Linked DNA regions of Homo sapiens. The protein of the gene in region 1 purifies or fractionates together with the protein of each later gene. This does not show direct contact. Each region holds a gene or a part of one and is shown in the gene's direction. Other genes may lie near its edges. The genes, in order: CCDC102A, TMEM169, DEFA5 and KCTD9.

What was found.
Region 2: the proteins of CCDC102A (region 1) and TMEM169 purify together in Homo sapiens (co-immunoprecipitation; one large-scale study listed by IntAct). This does not show direct contact.
Region 3: the proteins of CCDC102A (region 1) and DEFA5 purify together in Homo sapiens (co-immunoprecipitation; one large-scale study listed by IntAct). This does not show direct contact.
Region 4: the proteins of CCDC102A (region 1) and KCTD9 purify together in Homo sapiens (co-immunoprecipitation; one large-scale study listed by IntAct). This does not show direct contact.

The regions. Positions count from the first base shown.
Region 1 is NC_000016.10:57,518,595-57,524,615, reverse strand, and holds part of CCDC102A (coiled-coil domain-containing protein 102A), read left to right. Parts: intron 1-3,439; coding exon 3,440-3,548; intron 3,549-5,874; coding exon 5,875-5,991; intron 5,992-6,021.
Region 2 is NC_000002.12:216,090,556-216,096,576, forward strand, and holds part of TMEM169 (transmembrane protein 169), read left to right. Parts: intron 1-5,282; 5' UTR 5,283-5,408; coding exon 5,409-5,679; intron 5,680-6,021.
Region 3 is NC_000008.11:7,053,662-7,059,285, reverse strand, and holds DEFA5 (defensin alpha 5 preproprotein), read left to right. Parts: upstream 1-2,546; 5' UTR 2,547-2,588; coding exon 2,589-2,760; intron 2,761-3,742; coding exon 3,743-3,855; 3' UTR 3,856-3,982; downstream 3,983-5,624. UniProt on the Homo sapiens protein: Host-defense peptide that maintains sterility in the urogenital system.
Region 4 is NC_000008.11:25,450,863-25,456,883, reverse strand, and holds part of KCTD9 (BTB/POZ domain-containing protein KCTD9), read left to right. Parts: intron 1-3,308; exon of another isoform or gene 3,309-3,340; intron 3,341-6,021. UniProt on the Homo sapiens protein: Substrate-specific adapter of a BCR (BTB-CUL3-RBX1) E3 ubiquitin-protein ligase complex, which mediates the ubiquitination of target proteins, leading to their degradation by the proteasome.

The DNA.
Region 1 (6,021 bases):
AGACCCTGTCTCTCTCTCTATATATATATATATTTTTTTTAGACAGAGCCTCACTCTGTCAGCCAGGCTGGAGTACAGTAGCACAGTCTCGACTCACTGTAACCTCTGCCTCCCATGTTCAAGTGTTTCTCCTGCCTCAGCCTCCTGAGTAGCTGGGATTACAGGCATGTGCCACCATGCCTCTGGCGCATGTTCTTTGTAGTTCTCCTGGAACTGCATTCCCTATCCAAGTGCAAGTGCCCAGCTCACATTGTGGGGAGGTGGTCGGGGTTCCAGAGCACTGAGCATCCCCGGACAAGTACCTCTCTCCTGCTGCACCTCAGGCTCATCTGAAAATGGCTCCAGGAGGTGGCGGCCCCAGCACTGGCCACTCCACTCCTTGGCCCACCTTGTTCTTCTCGAAGGGCTGTCAAAGACCACCCTGCTCCTGTCTGTTTTGTAGACTATGTTCCCTGCAAGGCTTGGTCTGAACACATGTTTCTGCAGATAGAAACACTGGAAAACACTGTCCAGTGACCCGAAGAGAGGGTTCTCTCTTGCCATCGTCACTGTGTGGGATCCCTACATCCTCCCATAACCCCCACCCTGCCTTGATCTTGAATAAGGCACTGTAGGTTACAAGCATGATGCCTGGCCCTGGCAGAGTAGGTGCTCACCAATGGCTGAGCTCAGCATCACCTTCCAGCACGCTGCCCTTCATGACCCCACACCACACTGGCCTCTCTCTCTGAGAGTGGAACACTCCACGCCTCCAACATGGGGTTCCCAGAGGGGACAACCCAGAGGGTGGCTAAAAAATTAGCCACCAGACCCGGCTAATTTTTGTATTTTTCATAGAGACGGAGTTTTACCATGTTGGCCAGGCTGGTCTCGAACTCCTGACCTCAGGTAATCCACCAACCTCAGCTTCCCATAGTGCTGGGATTACAGGCATGAGCCATTGTGCCTGGCCTACAAAAAAAAAAAAATTAGCTGGGAACGGGGCTGTGCCACTGTAGTCCCAGCTACTTGGAAGGCTGAGGCGGGAGGATCGCTTGAGCCCAGGAGGTCGAGGCTGAGGGAGCTGTGATTGTATGAATGCACCAGTACCCTCCAGCCTAGGTGACAGAGAGAGACGCTGTCTCAAAAAAAAAAAAAAATCACTATAATGCCTTTGTGAAGATGTAGGCAGAGGTCAGGGTGATGCTTTTGCGGACATTGTTGCATCTTTGGCCAAGGAATACCAAAGATGGCCAGCAAACTGCCAGAAGCTGGGAGAGAGGCATGGAACGGATTCTTTCTCGCAGCCCTCAGAGAACCAGTCCTGCCAACAGCTTGATCTTGGACTTCTAGCCTCTAGAAATATGAGAGAATAAATTTAGACTGTTTAAGCCAAACAAGCAAAAAAATCAACCTAGTGCACTAACTGAAATATAAAGTAGAAGTGAAAGTAACTTTTTTTTTTTTTGGAGACAGAGTCTCGCTCTGTTGCCCAGGCTGGGGTACAGCGGCTCTATCTCAGCTCACTACAATCTCTTGTCTCCCTGGTTCAAGCAATTCTCATGTGTCAGCCTCCCGAGTAGCTAGGACTACAGGCACACACCACCACGCCCAGCTAATTCTTCGTATTTTAGTAGAGACAGGTTTTCACCATGTTGCCCAGGCTGCTCTCGAACTCCTGAGCTCAGGGAGCCCACCTGCCTTGGCCTCCCAAAGCGCTAGGATTACAGGTGTAAGCCACTGCGCCCAGCCTGAAAGTAACTTAAAATACACGTGTTGTGATATGGGAGTGCTTGGGCATAGCTCCTCTAGAAGAAATGGTGAAGTGGTCAGAGTGGGTGTCTTTAAATGGGATGATAGTGACGATAGTTATAACAGCAAAGACATAGCATGTGCTCCGAGTCAGGTGTTGTGTTGAAGGCTTACATGTATCTGCACATTTAAGTCACCTCGCAGGACAGCTACAAAGGCGGCTCATGCAGGTGTGCAGACTTAGCAACTCAAAGACACAAGTGGTGTCACTGCGATGCGCTTTCTTGAGAGATGAACAGCCTTTGGTAAAGTTCTGAACAAAGCAAAGTGCAGCCGGGCACCGTGGCTCATGCCTATAATCCCAGTACTTTGGGAGCTCGAGGTGGCAGGATCGCTTGAGTCCAGGAGTTCCAGGTTGCAGTGAGCTGTGAACAGACAGGAACAGGGTAGTCTTTAAGAGATGAGCCTGGGGTACAGCAGGAGGGAGGTACTTGCCCAGAGATGCCCAGTGCTCTGGAGCCCTGACCACCTCCCCACAATATGAGCTGGGCACTTGCACTTGGGTAGGGAGTGCAGTTCCAGGGAGTGAGCTGTGATCTGCACTCCAGCCTGAGCAACAGAGCCAGATCCTCTCTCTAAAAACAAAGAAAAGTGCAGTCTTCCTTCAGTTTATACAGTGATTCCATTCCTAGAAAATTCAGTGTATGTTAGTATAAAAATTACTTTCTGTTTCAATGTAAATCAGAATGAGGCTGTAGGCTCAGATCATCTCTACCCCGAGCAATGTCCAGTGGGCTGTGCATGCATTCAGTAGGATGCAGGATGCATCCTGATGGGCAGGACGCCCAGGGCATTGCAGGGAGTCAGGCACCCTGGCCCCCGTCCACTAAATGACCCCTAATCATTGTGATAGCCAAAAATGTTGCCATGGGTTTTCAACATGCCTCCTACAGGGTGACGTTGTCCCCTCTGGGAACCCCATGTTGGAGGCATGGAGTGTTCCACTTTCAGAGAGAGAGGCCAGTGTGGTGTGGGGTCATGAAGGGCAGCGTGCTGGAAGGTGATGCTGAGCTCAGCCATTGGTGAGCACCTACTCTGCCAGGGCCAGGCATCATGCTTGTTACCTACAGTGCCTTATTCAAGATCAAGGCAGGGTGGGGGTTATGGGAGGATGTAGGGATCCCACACAGTGTCGATGGCAAGAGAGAACCCTCTCTTCGGGTCACTGGACAGTGTTTTCCAGTGTTTCTATCTGCAGAACCATGTGTTCAGACCAAGCCTTGCAGGGAACATAGTCTACAAAACAGACAGGAGCAGGGTGGTCTTTGACAGCTCTTCGAGAAGAACAAGGTGGGCCAAGGAGTGGAGTGGCCAGTGCTGGGGCCGCCACCTCCTGGAGCCATTTTCAGATGAGCCTGAGGTGCAGCAGGAGAGAGGTACTTGCCCGGGGATGCTCAGTGCTCTGGAACCCCGACCACCTCCCCACAATGTGAGCTGGGCACTTGCACTTGGATAGGGAATGCAGTTCCAGGAGAACTGCAAAGCCAGGGTGCTTCTAGCCACATAGGGTGCCTGGGCCTGAATACCAAGGCAAGGATTTTGGACTTGGGCTCAACAAGTGCAGAGGGCACACAGCAGGGCCACCCTTGGTGAGGACTCCAAGCAGAGGGCCTTGGTGGGCTCACCCCCATGTCTGTCCCTTCCCCAGGGATAAACTGGCGTTGAGCAGGAACATTGAGAAGCTAGAGGGGGAGCTCAGCCAGTGGAAGATCAAGTATGAGGAGCTGAGCAAGACCAAGCAGGAGATGCTCAAGCAGGTGAGTCTTGGAGACCAGAGGGTCTTCCTGGAGGCGGCAGGATCGCGCTGTTGAATTTCAGTAGTGGAGATGGAAGAGAGAATTCATTCATTAATTCATCCAACAGTTGTTCTTTTTTTTTTTTTTTTGAGACAGAGTCTTGCTCTGTCACCTAGGCTGGAGTGCAGTGGTGTGATCTTGGCTCACTGCAACCTCCACCTCCCGGGTTCAAGCGATTCTCCTGCCTCAGCTTCCCGAATAGCTGGGATTACAGGCACCCGCCACCACGCCCGGCTAATTTTTGTATTTTTAGTAGAGACAGGGTTTCACCATGTTGGCCAGACTGGTCTCGAACTCCTGGACCCAAGTGATCCTTCTGCCTCGGCCTCCAAAGTGCTGGGATTACAGGTGTAAGCCACAGTGCCTGGCTTTATTTTATTTTAATTTTATTTATTTTTATTTATTTTATTTTATTTTATTTATTTTATTTTATTTATGTTATGTTATGTTATGTTATGTTATGTTATGTTATGTTATGTTATGTTATGTTATTTTTTCTGAGTTGTTCTGAGTGCTGGGCAGGCAAGGTCCCTGCCTTCAGGAGCTCACTTTGTGGGGGCTGTGGGCATGGGAGACCGACAGTCACCAGGCAGATTCATAATTTATGAAGGAGTCAAAACAGAATGAGAGAGATGGGGTGGTAGGTCAGGGAAGGCCTAAGAAGGTGGCATTTGAGGCAAGACCTAAAGGGGCTAGAGGAAGCTGTCCTTGAAAAGATACAGGGGAGAGTGTTCCTGGCAGAAGGCACAGCGGTGCAAAGGTCCTGAGGCAGGAACAAGCCCAGCGTGTGCGGGAAACAGGGAGGGCCAGGTGGCTGGAGAGCAGGAAGTGAGAGGCGAGGCCGCAGGAGGGGGCCTTGTAGACCAGGATGAAGACGAGGAGGCTGGATGTGGCATTCATTGGGTTCCTATCTGTACTAGGTGTCACTGAAGCCTCATGGCAGCCCAGGGAGCTGGGTCCTCATGTCCCCATCTTACAGATAGGGAAACTGAGGCTCCAGAGAAGGGAATCCACCACTGCAGTGTGGGGGCTCAGAGCAGGCTGAGCTGCCACTACGGCCTCCTGTGCAGGCCTCAATGGCCACCAGAGGGCGCAGCCACCCAGGGAACGCCACACTGGATCGGTGGGTTTCTAGCAGCTGGGAGGATCACAGAACTTTAGAGCCTGAAACTGTCCTGGAGGGGACCAAGACTGGTCTTACATGAGAATCTCTGAGGAAATCTCCTAAAATACAGATTCCCAGACCTCGCCTCCACCCTCCTGAATCAGCACCTTTCAGGGCTGGGTCCAGGACCCTGTTCTTTTAGTCTTTTCAAATTATGAAGTATAATCATTCGAAGAAAAGCGAATGAAACACAAATGTACAATTTAGTAGAAAATTATAAAGGTTCTCTTTTGTATCTGGTGTCTCTCCCTCAACATTATGTGTTGAAAACTCATCCGTGTGTTACAGGGAGCAGCAGTTTGTTGGGGTTTGCTGTATACCGCAAGAAATGTTATTGTCTTAAATGCACGCCAAGCAATGCCGATGCACCTGTGTGCAGAGCAGTGTTGGAATTAGTCACTGTACACTGAGGGCGGCCCTGTGCCCAGGCCATACAACGACACAAAGGTGGACAGACGCACAAGCTCCCCGTCCTCCCAGGCTAGCTTTCCAGTGGGGAGTGGGATGAGGAGGCCCCTCCTCCAGGCCAGGTGGGCAGAAGAGGCATTCCTAAGGAGGGGGCCTTTAGGTCAAGGCCTGAGAATAAGAAAAATCAGTCCTAAGAAGTGTCTCAGAAAGATCCACGCATGTGCAAAGGCCCTGTGGTGGGCAGGAACTTGGTGTGTCTGAGGAACAGAAAGGAGTCCCTGGTGCCTGGAGTACAGTGAACTAAGGGGGAGCGGCGGGTAGGTGTCCAATCGTGCAGGGCTTTGTGAGAGCGTAGAGAGGAGTTGGACTTTACCCTAAGGCACCTGGGAGCCATCAGAGGCTTTGTGGGAGGAGGGTGGTATGATTGCATTCATCTTTGTTAAAAGCTCCCTCTGGGCTGCTGTTGTAGAAAACGGGTTGACAGAGAAGGGCCAGGAGTAGACACTGGGAGGCTAGACAGTAATGAGGAGGAGAGACATTGGGAGGAGCAGAAGTGGTCAGATTCGAGGTCTGTTTGGAATACCTGGTGCCTGCCCCATTTGGGCGCTGCCTTGGCTCCACGCTGAGCACTCCTGCACTGGCGCCCACCCCCGGAGGTGGTTCCAGGCTATATCCTGGTGGTTCTCATGACCAGGTGGGGCCTTATCCCTGCAGCTCAGCATCCTGAAGGAGGCGCACCAGGACGAGCTGGGCCGCATGTCTGAGGACCTGGAAGATGAGCTCGGTGCACGCTCCAGCATGGACCGGAAAATGGCCGAGCTGAGGGGCGAGGTGAGGCCATGGATGGGACCCAGGAGGACC
Region 2 (6,021 bases), on another chromosome or scaffold:
AGAGAAACTATTTATAGGAATCCCACAGAAATGTTGAGAAAATTCTATTCACAGAATACTAAAAGGTTCAGAAACCATAAAAACAAAAAAACACTTTTGGACCTCCAAATTCTATAGGCAGGAAGCAGGTAGAGAAGACTACTCACCACCCAGCTAAGGCACTCCCAGTTTATTGACGCACATAATTGTGTGAGATAATAACTTTTTTATTGTTTTAAACCTTTACTTCTTGGGTAATTTGTTACATCACAACAGATAATTCATATTCTTGTACTGTGACATCTGATATATTCCAGACTTGCAGGAAACTAACAGTAAAAAGGATCCCCAAATTTAGGAAAACACTGTTTTTACAGTAGCCTTGATAACAAGTAGCCACCAGAACTAGTTTTAAACATGTTCAATCAACAACTGCCTAAGTGAATACATTTTTGAAAGCCATCATCAGAGTGCCAGACCCTGATTGGCCAAAAGTCAACTCACACTAGTGTGAAAGTCAGCCAAACAGGGACAGAGCCACTCACCTGATTGACTTTCAGAAACAAAGGACTGACTGGATGGGTTAATTTCCAAAAACATGTTTGCTGAGTGTTATGGTATGGTTTGTTTTCCCCCCAAATCCATATGTTGAAATTTCAGCCCCCAAAGTGATGGCATTAGGTGAGGCTTTATGTCATGACGGTGGAGTCCTCAGGAATGGGATTAGTGCCCCCATAAAAGAGACCCAGAGGCTAGGCTCAGTGGCTCACACCTGTAATCCCAGCACTTTGGAAGGCCAAGGCGGGCGGATCATGAGTTTGAGAGCAGCCTGGCCAATATGGCGAAACCCCATCTCTACTAAAAATACAAAAATTAGCTGGGCATGGTGGCGTGTGCCTGTAGTCCCAGCTAATTGGGAGGCTGAGGCAGGAGAATTGCTTGAACTTGGGAGGCAGAGGTTGCAGTGAGCCAAGATTGCGCCACTGCACTCCAGCCTATGCGACAGAGTGAGACTCCATCTCAAAAAAAAAAAAAAAAAAAAAAAGAGAGAGACCCAGAGAGCTAGTCAGCTCCTTCAGCCACGTGAAAACACAGTGAGAAGGCACCATCTATGAACCAGAAAGTGAGTCCTACCAAACCCCTAAACTTGATCTTGGATTTTTTGCTCCCAGAACTGTACAAAATAAATTCTTGTTGTTTATAAGCTACCTAGTCTATGGTATTTTCTTATGGCAGCCCAAATGCACTAAGACACTGAGGGAGATTGTTGTTGATCAATTGAACAGGTTTAAAACTGGTTCTATTGTCTACTTACCATGACTACAAAATAACCCATCTTTTCCTAAGTTTGTGGGAATGTTTTGTAGTCTCAAAGGATAGTGTTCTAATTGTAGGGAGATGAGGAAATCATGTTTCAAGGTAAATCAAGGACAGTGTCTCTGTCCTGTGACTACTGTAAGTAGACATTGGCTGGGCACCTTTCTAAAATGAGCTGTGCCTGAAGCAAAAATAGCCCCCCTAAGGTGAATAGCCAGGAGCTCACCCTTTACATTTCATATTTCTTGTCTAAGGTTTTAATGGGATGTTCAAAAGTCATCTCTCTTTTTGCCTCTGATAGGATTGTCCCTCTCCTCCATCAGCCAACAAGATGACCATGTTTATCTTTTATATCCCCAAGAGACTCCAAAGCTTCTCTTAGCTACTATTTTCTGTACTAGTCTGTCCCTGGGCTCAGGAAGCTCTTCCTGTTATCTAACATTGGCCTCTCCCATTGTGCCCAACCAAATCAAGAGTGTCGAACACTACACCTTTTTATGTTTTTTTTTAATTAAATTAATTCTTTTTTTGAGTGATTCGCCCGCCTTGATCTCCCAAAGTGCTGGGATTACAGGCATGAGCCACCGCACTTGGCCACTTTTTAATGTTTATAAGGCCCATTAATAAGGGTCATCATCTCCATGCATGTGTTCACTTTGCCCTGCCACATCTTCCTAGAGCACCACCCCCTCAACAAAGAGAGAGGAAAAGGGAACAAGAAGTATGAGATTTGCAACTTGCCTTCTCACGTGTACTCTTTAACATTTCTGTCTCCCTTCTGAACATCTTGGTACATCTTTAAAGAAGGAGTAAGGAGTACAGAACATAAACCTTCTCCCAGCTCTGAAGCTCTGGTCCTTTAATCTCCTCGGGGTCTCAACCCCTAGTTTGAAAATTCATGCTGTATAGAAGGGCCAAAGAAGGCCCTTCACAAGCTGCCTCAGAAAACAACAGAGAGAAACAGATGATCTAAGTAGGAAAACACGGTGGATTAGGGTGGCCTCCCAAGCTGTGATCATTGCACCTTCAAGTAAGTACAAAGTGGTTTGTTCAGAGGTCATTCCTACCATAGAATTACCATGATGCAGCTTTCTGAGTGTCAGTGTATAAGAGGACTTGGACCAGGGAAAACATTTTTGTATTAAACATAGACACTTAGAGAGTAGAATTACAAATGTATGTATATACACATTTGTATATAAATATACATATGTATAAGTACATATATAGATATACATATATATGTATATCCTGGAACTTAACGTAATAATGAAGTGTGTGTGTGTGTGTGTGTGTGTGTGTGTGTGTGTGTATACATATAAAATCTTCACCTGGGGGTGGATTGCATTCAGCCTCCCCATTCAGTTTCCTCTGGGTAGAGGTCCACTGTCCTCTGTGTAGAAGCCACTTTGGTAGAAGAGCCCTGGTCAAGCTCATCAATGCCCAAGGCCTGCTCAGCATTCTAATGGTTGGATTAATTGTCCTCTGGAGCTATTTACCTTGGGAGGGCTCTCTCCCCTGCTTCTTCCTGTGTACATCCTTGTACTTTTAGACACCTCAGCCAAATGAATCTCCTGGTCCAGAAAGCTCCATGGATAAGAATTTAAAGATAATGGCTTTCATTCTGCCCCTAGTACACCCCCTAGACAAAGTCAGGCAGTGAGGACGTAGTGAAACCTGCCCATTTCATCCTGTGGATCCTACCACTAAGATTCTCAATTGTGTCGCTGGGTGCCTGATTTATTCCAGGCATTGGGTTAAGTGCCCAGTTATAAAGTTAATTTAGATCCAACATCTGCCAATCCAATGGAAAGACAAAGAAAATCAACAGAGGCTAGAGGAAATACTGGGTGAGAGGGCAGCAGAGGAGAACTCCCCTGCCTGGAGGGGGAGAAAAAGCCATTCCATTGAGCTTAAAATTTACCTAAATTTTAGAAACATTGAAATGAGAAAAAAAAATATGTATTCTGGCATTTTAAGAGATATGCTATACAGTACTTCCTGTCACATGGTAATTACCAAAGATATATAAATTTGCTTCAAAATGAATGGAGCCTAGTGGAATTCTAGAGCCTAGTGGAATTTTTGCTTCTTTCTTCTCTCCACTGCCCCACTCCCATCCACTGGGCCAGAACACTAGACATTGGGAACATTTGAATACACATGAGAGAAGAAGCTTTATTATTGGAAATAAAGGGATGGCAAATGGTGTACATGTGGCAGTAAAATAAGGCTCAGAGAGCACTGAAATACAGTGAGGGATTTGGGAGTTGGGAACAAAAGTAACAGCCAGTAACCTGGAGTTGCTGAAGAGTGTACAGCCTCGAGGAGTGTGGGGCGGCAGGGTTGTGAGTAGAAGCTTGCGATTCTGAATAATATGCACAGTTATTTGAAAAGTGGGGAATTTTTTGGTAAATCGCTTGGAAACTTTTTATATCCATAGCGGGTACCACTATAGTTCATAAGTTATTTTTCACAGTATAAATGCCAATAATATTGCATAACAGCAGGACCATTTGCCTCTTTCACTAGGATTAAAACTGGGTATGTTAAAAGTGCATGAGAGTATTCTAGCTAATAAATGAAGAAGTCAGAGAAATGGAATATCATTTTGTAACCCCCATGATTTAATGGGTATAGTCAATGGCCATTAACGGGCTGTTAACTTCACAAAAAGAGTCAACCAGACATTAGGGGACTTCTAATGGAAGTACAAACACCACCTCTAAAATTGTCCTGCCAAACAAAACAAACCATCAACCAAAAAAATTTCAATGTGAAATTGATCAAGACTTTCTATTTAGCTATCAACTCATAACACAGAGTTCAGAGGAACACACTGTGGGGATGCAATCAGCAAAACCCAGGCTATGAGAATCTGCAAGATAAATGACCCGCTTTCTTTAACAAATAAGTTACCAGGAAAAAAAAATGAAGGACAGATATACAGACCTGCACTGTCCAGAACAGAAAGTGGAGAGACACTGTTATTTTAAGGGGGAAAGTGAAGCCTCTCCACCGCTCTTGCAGCACGTGATAGGACACATCCCAGTAACTTTTTGAGATTGTGGGCTGACAAGAAGCCAGGAGACAGATTTCCTTTACAGAATAGCAAGGTAGACACAGTTGGTGAGGTTGTACCATTTGAGTGGCTTGCTTAATGTTGTATTTATCCATTTGAGTATAGTTTTAATGTATGATTCAATAGCCAGAAGTCTGGAATACTGGTCCCAGCCACCTATGGTTCTTTTTTCTTTCTTTTTTTTTTTTTTGACAGAGTCTCGCTCCGTCACCCAGGCTGGAGTGCAGTGGTACAATCTCAGCTCACCAGGCTCAAGCAATTTTCCTGCCTCAGCCTCCTAAGTAGCTGGGATTACAGGCACCCACCACTACAACCAGCTAATTTTTGTATTTTTAGTAGAGATGGGGTTTTGCCATGTTGGCCAGGCTGGTCTCAAACTCCTGACCTCAGGTGATCCACCCGCCTCGGCCTCTCAAAGTGCTGGGATTATATGCGTGAACCACTGTGCCCAGCCTACCTGTGGTTCTTAACTCTCACCTACTGGTAAGGCTTCCTCACCCAACTTCCTTATACTCTGCATGCTCCAACTAGAGGCTGATTTATACACAAAAATCGGTAACACAAGCAGACTATGCTAACTACTTATGTATATAAAATAAAGAAACAATAATTGTTGACTTTCATATGAATAAGGAAAATGCAAATTATGACAACAATGAGATATAGTATTCCTTCACATGGGTTTTGCCAAATATTATATGTTTGTATAAATGACAAAAATATTACTGTAGCAAAAGTTTATTCACTGTCTATTATAAGAGATTTAGATTGCATTCCCAAAATAAAGTATTGCAAGAAGTAAAGGGAGAGGAAGGCTTCTGCTAAGTTGAGGATCGTTTCCCACATTCCTGTCCATCTCACCCCATTTGCTTCCTGTTGATGGCTTTGCTTTCCTATCTTTCAGGTGGAATGCATCCTTGGGACATCTTTGCATAGCCCCATCTAGGAAGAAGTTCTGTGATGTGTGAACTGTGAGTTTACTCAAACAAGTCCAACTCTTTATAAGACATAGGTAGACGTCAGGTCTGGAATGGAAGAGCCAACAGCAGTAGAAGGCCAGGTCCAGCTTCCAAGCCCCCACCAGGGCTCTCTCAGGAAGGCTGTGGCTGCTGCCCTGGCGCTGGATGGGGAATCCACAATGGGGCACAGGAAAAAGAAGAGGAAAGAGTCACGCCCAGAATCCATCATCATCTACCGCTCAGACAATGAGAAAACAGATGAGGAGCCCGGAGAATCAGAAGGTGGAGATCAGCCTAAAGAGGAGGAGGGAGATGATTTCCTAGACTATCCTGTGGATGATGGTAAGTCTCTCTAGCCCACTTGTTTAAAGCCATGGGAAGGAAACCAAAAGGGCATCTTCCAGAACAGACAGGCATATGCTCACTGTCCTATTTCTTCTTGGTGATACATTTCTTCTTGCAATATTACCACCTTTTATTTATTTATTTTGAGACAGAGTCTTGTTCTGTCACCCAGGCTGGAGTGCAGTGGCATGATGTCGCCTCACTGCAACTTCCACCTTCTGGGTTCAAGTGACTTTCCTGCCTCAGCCTCCTGAGTAGCTGGGACTACAGGCATGTGCCACCATGCCGGGCTAGTTTTTGTATTTTTAGTAGAGACTGGGTTTCACCATGTTGTCCAGG
Region 3 (5,624 bases), on another chromosome or scaffold:
TGCAAATTAAAATCATAAAGAGGTAATCATCTGTTAGAATGGCTTTTAACAAGTAGACAAATAATACGTGTTGGTGAGGATATAAAAAAAAGGGGACCCTTGTAGGCCATTGGTGGAAATGTAAATTAGTGCAGCCATTTTGGAAAATAGTATGGCGGTTCCTCAAAGCACTGAACATAGAATTACCATATGACCCAGCAATCCCACTTCTGGGTATATCTCCCAAGAAATTGAAATCACTGTATCAAAGAAGAATCTGCACTCCCATGTCCATTTCAGCATTATTCAAAATAAGCAAGATATGGAATTAGCCTAAATGTTCATCAGTGGATGAATGAATAAAGAAAATATGGTATACATGCAAGATGGTATACCATATAGCCTTAAAAAAGAAGGAAATTGGCAGGGCGCGGTGGCTCACTCCTGTAATCCCAGCACTTTGGGTGGCCCAGGCGGGCGGATCACGAGGTCAGGAAATCGAGATCATCCTCGCTAACACAGTAAAACACCGTCTCTACTAAAAATACAAAAAAATTAGCCGAGCATGGTGGCGGGCGACTGTACTCCCAGCTACTCAGGAGGCTGAGGCAGGAGAAAGGCGTGAACCTGGGAGGCGGAGGTTGCAGTGAGCCGGGATCGCACCACTGCACTCCAGCCTGGGCGACAGCAAGACTCCGTCTCAAAAAAAAAAAAAAAAAAAAAAAAGAAGGAAATTCTTCATTCATGACAACATGGATGGAACCAAAGGACAATGTGCTAAACGAAATAAACCAGACACAGGAAGACAAATACTATATGATATCACTTACACATGGAATGTTAAAATGTCAGTTTTATGGAACTAGAGTACAAAGGTGGTCATCAGAAGCTGCAGGTGGGTGAGATAGGAAAAGAGAAGATGTTGAGCCAAGAGTACAAAGTTTCAGTTATGCTGGAGAGTCTTAGTGATCTATGGCACTGCACGGTGACCACAGTTAATAGTGATGTATTGTATCTTTCAAACTGCTAAAGGAATCAATTTGTAATTCTCCTTAAAAAATTAAGTTGGTGAGGTGATGGCTATCTTAATTAGCTTATGTGTTTCTCCCATGTGGATATCAATCCAAACGTCACATCATACCCTACAAATATACAGAAAATTATTTTTCAATGAATAAATAAATAAATTTGAAAAAAATTAAATGAGGAATTCAAATATAGAGACTCTCCAAGGGCCCACTGAGCCCCAAAGGATTTGGATCAAATATGGTGATATTATGGAAATATGTAGTAATATCTTAAAAATGTGTAAGATATAGTCTCTTTTTTTTTTTTTAAGAGAAAGGGGTCTCACTATGTTTTTAGGCTGGTATCGAACTCCTGGTCTCCAGTGATCCTCCCACCTCAGCCTCTCAAATAGCTAGAAATATAGGCATGTACCACCATGCTGGCTTAAGATGCATTCTTTGACACAGCAATTCTATTTCTATAAGTTTATCCATATAGGTAAGAGAACATATATACAAGATAATCACTGTAACTTTACTTATTACTGCAAAAGTTTAAAAATAACCAAATTGTAATAATTTTATAATATTTTATCAGTACAAAAAATAAGTGATGGCATATACAAACCCTGGGATAGTATAAGGCTATTAAAATTATAATAGCATTCCATGTATTTTGATATACAAAGTGCCAATGTTACAGGTGAAAAAAGCGAAGTGCAGAATACTATGTGTAACTGTTAATAGTGATGGTTTGCTGGGTCAGAACTGAAGGCCTGGGGGTAGAAATGAGAGCTCATGACTTCTACCTTTTGAATGTTGTTCCTTGTGCATGATTTACAATTTTCTAAAACTAAAAAAAAAATCTCAGAAAGGGGCTGTACGCACCTAAATTACTTTGATATTCCCCAAAGTGGAGAGAAGTACCCGCTACACATTTTATGTGATGCATTCAGATCACACCAACTCCTTGAACTAAATCCGAATTTTTATTTTAATCTGATAAACTTGGCCTACTATTTTACTGAACTCATTTCCCCTATAGCCTGATAAGGTCATTGACCTCTCCATACTGGCACCAGCGGGAGACTACTCACCTCGAGATCTCAAAAGCCTCCTACATGAGGTTAGTAATATCCCTGAATCCTGCAATGAATTAACTCTCTACTCCACTGAGTCCCAGGTCTGCCCCCAGAGAGTCATCCAGAGAGTACCAGGGACCATCTTCAGAAAACAAGAGGCATTTGATCCCCAAACTTCTTGAATGAAAGCGCTGTTGTTTTTCTTTTTTGAATATATAAAAGTAAATACTCAAGCAGATGGGAAACAGAACAGGATAGTAATACCCTTATCATCATTAACACCTTGGATCAAGAAGAGGCATTAAGCATACAGACTCACGCTTTGATGAAAGCTGGGAGAAAGAGGAGCATCAAAGGGATCTTGAGAACAAAGGCAGTCCTTCCCCTCCCAATCACATGCCCACCTCCTCTCACTGCAGCTTCTGTCTCAGGTCTTCTCCCAGCAGAGCTATAAATCCAGGCTGACTCCTCACTCCCCACATATCCACTCCTGCTCTCCCTCCTGCAGGTGACCCCAGCCATGAGGACCATCGCCATCCTTGCTGCCATTCTCCTGGTGGCCCTGCAGGCCCAGGCTGAGTCACTCCAGGAAAGAGCTGATGAGGCTACAACCCAGAAGCAGTCTGGGGAAGACAACCAGGACCTTGCTATCTCCTTTGCAGGAAATGGACTCTCTGCTCTTAGAACCTCAGGTAGGAGACATCAATCTTGCACATCTGCAAAATCTAGAAAAAAAGGATTGGAGAAAGGATCTGGAGTCAAGTGTGGAAAGGTCTACCTCACTTGAGTGACTTTACTTAATCTTCCTGGACCTTGATTTTCTCATCTATAAATTAATCAGTGAGAACCAAATAAATCTAAAAGATTTTCTTTTTTCTAAGACTTTCAGTTCCAAGATATTTCTGTGAAATTTGCTACTTTTAAGATAGAAAGAGCTACACTGACTAGTTCTTTGTAGATCTAAATGGGCAGACTTAGTTATATAGAGAGTGTTTTACTTTGTCCATTGGAAAAGCTTTTAGAACCTAGAGAGGAACCTATAGGTGTGTTTTGATGTAGGCTAATAGGCTTGATTAAATCTTTCTACAATACATCCTTAGATCAAAACATCATATTGTGTCTCATACATATACACAATTATTGTTTGTCAATTAAAACAAGTAAATATGTAAAATGTTAAAAAAAAAAAAAAAAAAAAAAAAAGGAGAGACAGAGAATGAAGAATTTGAATTTGGAAAGTCTTCAAAGACTCCTTGAGCACCAAAGTATTTGGTCCATGACATTAGCATGCACAATGCGGCATTTCAGAAACTGATTCAGGTGCTTTAGGGAGCCTTGTTAGGACCTGGAAATCACACATGGAGGTCAAGATTAGGCGTGTGGATGAAGCAGAATGAAGAGTAGGTAACCCTGAGGTTGAGAGGTATATTGTTGGACCAGGGAGCAGGTAATAAATACATCCTGGATAGACTCACATGGGGAAAAAAACTATGATCTTGCATGACTAACACATAGCTAGTAAGATTTCTTGTCACTTACGACAAAGACATGAATTTTCTCCATCCTAACATGACTGATACAGTGTCTCTTATTTAGACTATCTCAGTTAGTCTGGCTGTGCTTGTCCTTTTTCCCACCTCCCTCGCTGTGCCTGACCCTCTCTTCTTTCCACAGGTTCTCAGGCAAGAGCCACCTGCTATTGCCGAACCGGCCGTTGTGCTACCCGTGAGTCCCTCTCCGGGGTGTGTGAAATCAGTGGCCGCCTCTACAGACTCTGCTGTCGCTGAGCTTCCTAGATAGAAACCAAAGCAGTGCAAGATTCAGTTCAAGGTCCTGAAAAAAGAAAAACATTTTACTCTGTGTACCTTGTGTCTTTCTAAATTTCTCTCTCCAAAATAAAGTTCAAGCATTAAACTTAGTGTGTTTGACCTTTTTAATTTTCTTTTCTTTTTCCTTTTTTTTCTTTTGCTTTGTTATATGGTGGTTTGTATGGTTCCTTTGTATTGAGAATTCTGATCTACATTAAGTTAACTGGTCTTTGCATTCCAATGATGCACAATTTGAGCATCATAGAGCAATAACAAAATAACAAAAATGAATATAATTGGGTTTTTTATTGTTGTTGTTTGAGACAGTGTCTAACTTAGCCACCCAAGCTGGAGTACAGCGGTGCAATCTCGGCTCACTGCAGCCTTGACCTCCTGTGCTCAAATGATCCTCCCACCTCAGCCTCTTGAGTAGCTGGGACTACAGGCATGTGCCACCACACCCTACTAATGGTTTGTATTTTTTTGTAGAGACAGGGTTTCACCATATTGCCCAGGTTGGTCTCGAACCCCTGAGCTTAAGTGATCTGCTCTCCTCAGCCCCCCAAAGTGCTAGGATTACATGCTTGAGCCACCATTCCTGACAGGATATAAGTGTTAATTGGAATAGTTTGAAACTTAAAAATTCAATGCATTCCTAATGATACTCAAAAAGTAGAAGTTTACAATGAGAGGCAAAAAGTGGTTGTTGGCTCAAAGGAAAGATAGATCTAATGGGCTATGTTTACTTGTCCTTTAATTTTAAAAAGTGGGAAAGCATTGCTATACATAATTTTTGAAATTTTAAGCAGATGTGTTAAATATATACACTTTACATTAAGCTTTATTTCACTCTGTTTTGGTGATATATAACTGTATCAACAAGATAGAATAAAATAAAGTTTACTAAGGAAAAAGTTAAAACTGTGCCCAAAACAAGAAAGACTGACAAGCATCAGTGATCTCAATTAATAACCAGATAGAAGAGGAGCTCAGAAGCTGGTGACCATAGAGGACGAGGCCCAATAACCAATGAGACAAATGGTCCCTCACTGGTCCCCAAAAGGTTAATTAGACCAATGTTTAATGAAGGAGTTGGTCTCAACTCTCCATCCCTTCAAGCATATGAACTCTATTTATTATAATAAAGCTATACTCATTTTAATAAAATGCTAGTGAGAAAATATATGTTAATATGTTTTTAATTATGCCAATGAACCAAGTCAATACATCATAATGATAAGAAAATTGGCCATACACTTAGGGCTATGCAAAAACTTAAGAACGACGTATTTGTGAGAAAAACAAGTTTCTAGAATTAAAATTTATATAAAAGACAGGGATTGAACAGTGTCATGACATGACAAAAAAAACCAAACATTTTTATTACAACAACAACAAAAAGTCTCAGCCTGATAATAAATAACAAGTAGTCTGGGTTTGATTCATCTTAGACACATGCAAAGCACTGTTTCCTGATCAAGGGTCAGCTATTTGGCCCTAGACTTGCAACCTCGTTTAGTCATTTGGGGTCTCGGAAGATCACAAAAATCATAGGAAGGAGTAAACTCAAAACAAATGAGAAAAGATGTCAAATCCATGATATGGGCCCTTCTGTATCATTTTTGGTATAATGAATGAATAAGTTTGTGATTGTCTTTCAGGAATATGTTTATCTATTCTTTAAGGTATTAGATGTGTTTAAAAACAATTAGGCATACTAAATGTATTACATCAATATAGATGAAGGG
Region 4 (6,021 bases), on another chromosome or scaffold:
TCAAAAACAAACTTCTGGTTGACCTTTTTAATGCAGTATCTCTGCTATGTTACTCATGGAAGACAAATATTTAAACCTAGTCATAAATATTTTTGCTCTAAATCTCTCCCAAATCCACTCAATTTGGTTGTCAAAAATTAACTGAGTTGGTCTTTCCATATTGTTGTTCACACGGATTTTTTTTTTAAGCTATCTAGTTTTGACTAGATTAGATTCTTGGATTTAAATTTTATTTACTTTAAAAATATTCTGCTAGAGAATCTCAGAAGATTGGGGAAAATGCATCTCAAATAATTAAATATAAATATGTTTATGTTACAACGTAAAAATCCAAACTGGAGAGTACTAGATAAAAAGAAGCAAAGCCATGATCTTCACTGCTCAGCTGATGAACATATTCTAAGACGTTGGCAGTGTTTTCTCTCCCTTCAGTTGATTAAAAAAATTTATAATTATTCTTATTTGACAAAAGAGCTGCATAATACATAACAGCTTGCATTTTTATATATAAAGTGACTAATTGGATTGGCATGATCATGACATGAATGTTCATTAAGAATAAGCTGGGAAAAGTGCTACTCAAATAGAATAGAATTTGATTTCCCATCCACCAGTTGGAATATCTGTACCACTTACTTTATCTCCCTTACCTCGCTTCTGCTTTTGTTTCCTGGTTATAAGAATAATCTCTGTTTTTTCAAGTAAGTTTCCCTCTCATAGCTTGTTTAGTAGTTACCAGACTGTGAGACTATGAAGCCTGGGGAAGGGCGTGGAGAGGCACAGAATTCTTCCAAGGTGCTGTGTTATATGCTCGCCAGGAATTGTCTGTGTATTGAATGAATGTAACTAGTGGTGGACGTATTTGACGTTGGAGAGAGGGCTATGCATTCTCTAAACTGTGGTTTCTGGAGTGAGATGACACACCACAGACAGTGTCCAAGACGATTTATTGGAGGTCAGGAAGAAATATACCTTTTGTTTATATCTTACACTTAAAAATATAAAATAATGTGAAAACTTGATTTTTCCGATCTAGAAAGACACAGGTGCCTCCAGTCACTGAACATTCAGCTGGTCTCAGGTCTCCTGTAAGAAGGGACGGCCTTCACATGTGAAAAGGTTAATAGTGTCTTCTTCACAGATTGGTTGTCATTGACATTGTGATATGGAAGCTTACAACCGGCACATTAAGATTTATATCTAGTTTTAACCAAATTAACCCTCACCAAAATGCCAAGTGATCTTAAAGGATTACTTCAAAGAAACTGCAGCTTGAGACAATATTAATTATGCAAGCACAAGTAAACAATGAGGAAATGGCAGAAGCTGCCACTTCTCCTAGTATGTATAAACCATGAGACTAAAAAAAGAGTGGGTCTCTTTGGACCTGAGAAGTTGAAACAGTGCTGAGTTTTAAAGAAGAATATTTGAAGTCCTATTTATTAATTGCTATTAATAATCAGCCTCTCCCTAAGTGTATGTTATTCTTTGAAATATTAGCCATTGATAGGATGAGTCATCCTAGTTAGCAAGATATTTAGAAATAAGTTCTAGTGCATGAAGACAAATGGCTTCAGATTTTTTTCTTTTCTGATTTTTTGGTTTTTGTTTGTTTTTTACTTTTATTTATTTATTTATTATTTATTATTATTATTTTTTGAGACGGAGTTTTGCTCTTCCACCCAGGCTGGAGTGAAGTGGCGTGATCTCAGCTCACTGCAACCTCTGCCCCCCAGGTTCAAGCGATTCTCCTAACTCAGCCTCTTGCTTAGCTGGGATTACAGGGGCTTGCCACCATGCCCTGCTAATTTTTGTATTTTTAGTAGAGACGGTTTTCACCATGTTGGCCAGGCTGATCCTGAACTCTTGACCTCATGTGATCCACCTGCCTTGGCTTCCCAAAGTGCTAGGATTACAGGCGTGAGCCACCATGCCCGGCTTATTTTAATGTTTAAAGTCAATCCTGTATTTGGCAGAATTTCACTAAATTTAATGATAAATATTTAGGAGATTCTTAGTGGCTAATTCATAGTCTGAGTCACTGAAAGTCCTCATCATTTGGGAAAACATGTACTTTCTAACAGTGGAATGTAGTTCATAAATACATAAATATACAGATGTTTGAGTACATGCCCAAAAGTATGTTACCAATGGGGTGTGTGGTCAGAAACATTTGAAGGCCTTAGTTCTAATCACTGGAATCTTTGGTTTAAATTTTGAGGGTTTTTTTTGTTTTTGTTTTTTAAAACTGCTCCGAAAGAGTCAGTTATGTTGTTTGTACCTGTCATCCTTTTTCCATGTGCCTCAACATTTTCGTTATTCTTTTTAATATTCCCTGTAAGAGTTGGCATTAAGGAAATTGAAATGGGGACTTGCACATCTGCATGCAGTGTGTGGCTTCTGAGCAACTTAATGTCAGTGCAGAGTTTCTATACGTCTTGAACACAGAGTGCTTTTTTTACTTCAGAATATTCAATAATGAGCTGTGCAAGTCCTAGGCCTTTTGTATACTGATTAATTCATCATTCATTCATTCATTCATTCAGTGAACACTTAGTAAATGCCTTCTGAGTATGTGGCATCATGCCAAACATGGCAAACAGGGTAGGAAATACTTTCATTCTGTACCGTGTTTTCATTCTTGGTCCAAGAAATAACTTTTCTTCAGGTTTTGGTATTAGGTCAGAAACATGTTGGGGGCAGGCACAATGGCTCATGCCTGTAATCCCAGCACTTTGAGAGGCTGAGATGGGAGGATTGCTTGAGTTCAGGAGTTCAAGACCAGCCTGGGCAACATAGTGAGATCCCATCTCTAAAACAACAACAACAACAAAGAATGAAAAAGAAATATGTTGTTAGTAGTAAGTATCCAGGTTTGAATCCATTACGTTGTTAGAGTTGGAGAAAGGTGAAAATTTATCTGAACCTCTGCCTCTGAAGGCTAAACATTAATAAGAACCTAGTGAGGGCCCACTTTTTAAGCTTGAACATTTCTTAATATATTTGATACATAGAAAAGAATACAATAAAGAATATACATAAAAAGAGGAACATAATATAGCAAACATCTGTAAATCTGCCAGATAACCCAAGAAGTAGCATGTTATCAATAACATAATGTGTTTATCCACGTTCCTGTACTCCTGTTTTGTTTTTCTCTTTGCCGTGTGTTTTTAAATAGTTTTGTCACATATATATGCATAACTAAATTACCTTTTTTTTTTTTTTTTGAGTCGGAGTCTCACTCTGTCGCCCAGGTTGGAGTGCAGTGGCATGATCTCTGGCTCAATACAACCTCCGCCTCCCGGGTTCAAGCAATTCTCCTGCCTCAGCCTCCCAAGTAGGTGGGATTACAGGCGCCCGCCACCATACCTGGCTATTTTTGTGTTTTTAGTAGAGACAGGGTTTCACCATATTGGCCAGGCTGGTCTCAAACTCCTGACTTCGTGATCCGCCAGCCTCAGCCTCCCAAAGTGCTGGAATTACAGGCTTGAGCCACCGTGCCCGGCCCTCACCTTTTTTTTTTTGAGACAGAGTCTCGCACTGTCACCCAGGCTAGAGTGCAGTGGCGCGATCTTGGCTCACTGCAACCTCTGCCTCCTGGGTTCAAGCGATTCTCCTGCCTCAGCCTCCTGAGTAGCTGGAATTACAGGCACGTGCCACCACTCCCAGCTAATTTTTGTATTTTTAGTAGAGATGGGGTTTCACCATGTTGGTCAGGCTGGTCTCGGCTGACCTCCTGATCTGCCCGCCTCAGCCGCCCAAAGTACTGGGATTACAGGCGTGAGCCACTCTGCCTAGCCACTAAGTTACATTTTTAAAAAATCAGCTTCGGGACATACGGTATCTCAAATTGATATTATACTGTATATAGTTTTTTGTGGAGACAATGTCTTCCTATATTGCCCAGACTGGTCTCAAACTCCTGGCCTCAAGCAGTCCTCCTTCCTCAGTCTCCCAAGGTGCTGCGACTACAGGCATGAGCCATCATGCCAGGCCAGTCCTTGCTTTTTTCGTTCAATATAATTCTCTTCCAACCATAATATCTGACATAGTGATAATTTATTCATTTTTACTGCTTTATTAAAGTACATGTTATACAAATACTACCATGATATTCCTGTCAGTGGACATTAGGTTGTTTATTTTCTTTATATTTTGTTGTTAAATTGACAGTGCTGTCATGAATATTTCTGTATATGTATCCTGGCACACAGCAGCAAGCATTTTTCTAGGGAGGTAGTTAATCAAACTTTAGCATGCATCAGAGTCACTTGGAGGAGGAGGAGGACTTGAGAAAACTGCTGGACTTCATCCCCAAAGATTAATATTCAGTAGGTCTGGGGTGGGGTAGGAATGTACATTTTTAATTTGCAGGTGAAATGTGGTTCAGATGCTGCAGGTGACAGGATCACACATTTGAGAACCACCACTCTAAGGTATAGACACATAGTTGTAATTATTGGGTGTTAGAATATGTAAATATTCAGTTTTGCAAAATAATGCCAGATTGTTTTTCAAAGTCATTGCAGTAATTTATATTCCCACCACCATTGCATAAATCTTCCCTATTGGTCCACATCCACTCCAACACTTGATATTACCAGTATTTTCCATTTTAAAATTTTCTTTTTTCACCTTAGAGTTAATTATCTCATCTTTTTTTTAAATTATCTCATCTTTTAAAGAATAAGATCATGTAAATATTTAAAATGTATTTGACTAAAAGTATAGGTAGAGAAAATTGAGTTCTGTATTTAGTTACTAGTGGTGATTAGTGGTTTTGTTGGGTAAATCAGCCTGCATAAATTCAACAATTTATGTGTATTGTATATTACATAATGCACAATAAATACTTGTGTATTTATCATAACAACTTTTTGCAAATTAATTTTTTTATTGGACCTTTAGGATCCAGGCAGACAGCCAGATTAGAAAATATTTAGTGATATGGTAAATTGTTTTTGATACTTTATTAGGATTGATTAAAGTGGCAATAAAAGTTGAATTCAAATACACAAATACTTGTGTATTTATTGTGTATTATGTAATAAATCTTGTGGGTATAAAAGAAAAAAATATTTTACATGCATGTGCAGGTTTTAATTTTTAAATTTAAATAATACAGGTTACAATTTGAAAATGGTGTTTAAAGGTAAATTAAAACTAGCCAATCGTACTAGGCATGGTGTTCCATTTACTCTCCAACTCATAGGCAGCTTTCACTTGTCATGGGATCTGAAATTTAAAAATAATTGACTCTGAAAAGTAGTATAATACAGACATCATGAACTTTAATAGACATGCTTCTCAATAAATGTAAAATGCTTCTATTCTTAGGGCCTAAGTTGTTAAGGTAGATAATCCCAGTGACATGGAAACATCAGGCCACATGGTGGAGATAACACATACAAAGTAAATGACCTTTGTAAGCACTATCATTTTATGATTTATTTGGCTCAGTATGAGGACAAAAACAATCTTAGTATATACTAACTGGAGCTTATGTCCATGATATACAAGATTTTTATTGCTCCTCTTTCTCAAAAGAGTTATATAAAGAAGAATGCATGTGCCAGTCTGTTTGCAACTTTCTCCGTAACTTAATCATCTTTTCCATATGTATGACAAATTTATGTTGATATATATATTTTAAAACCTGGTTTCTAATTAGTTTAAAATACAGAGTTTTTGCATATTTGAATATTAGTATTGCAACATAACTCCTTTTTATTTGTATGGTATTGTTAGTATGTGCGAATGATTAGTTGGAAAACAAACGTCAAGAATAGCCCTCCAAGTGAAAACAAGTATATTGGCCCAACTTAAGGGAAATTTTCAAATTTCTAGAACTATAAGATTCTTCGTATTAATTTTAATTCTGTTTTCTCTAATTGACCACCCTTTGGTTATTTCACTTAAAGGAAATTGTTAACTGCCTGATTGCAAACTGCTAAAATAATTTTATTTATAGAACTAGTATCTGGAGCTATGGAGACCTTAAAATAAATTAAAACTTCC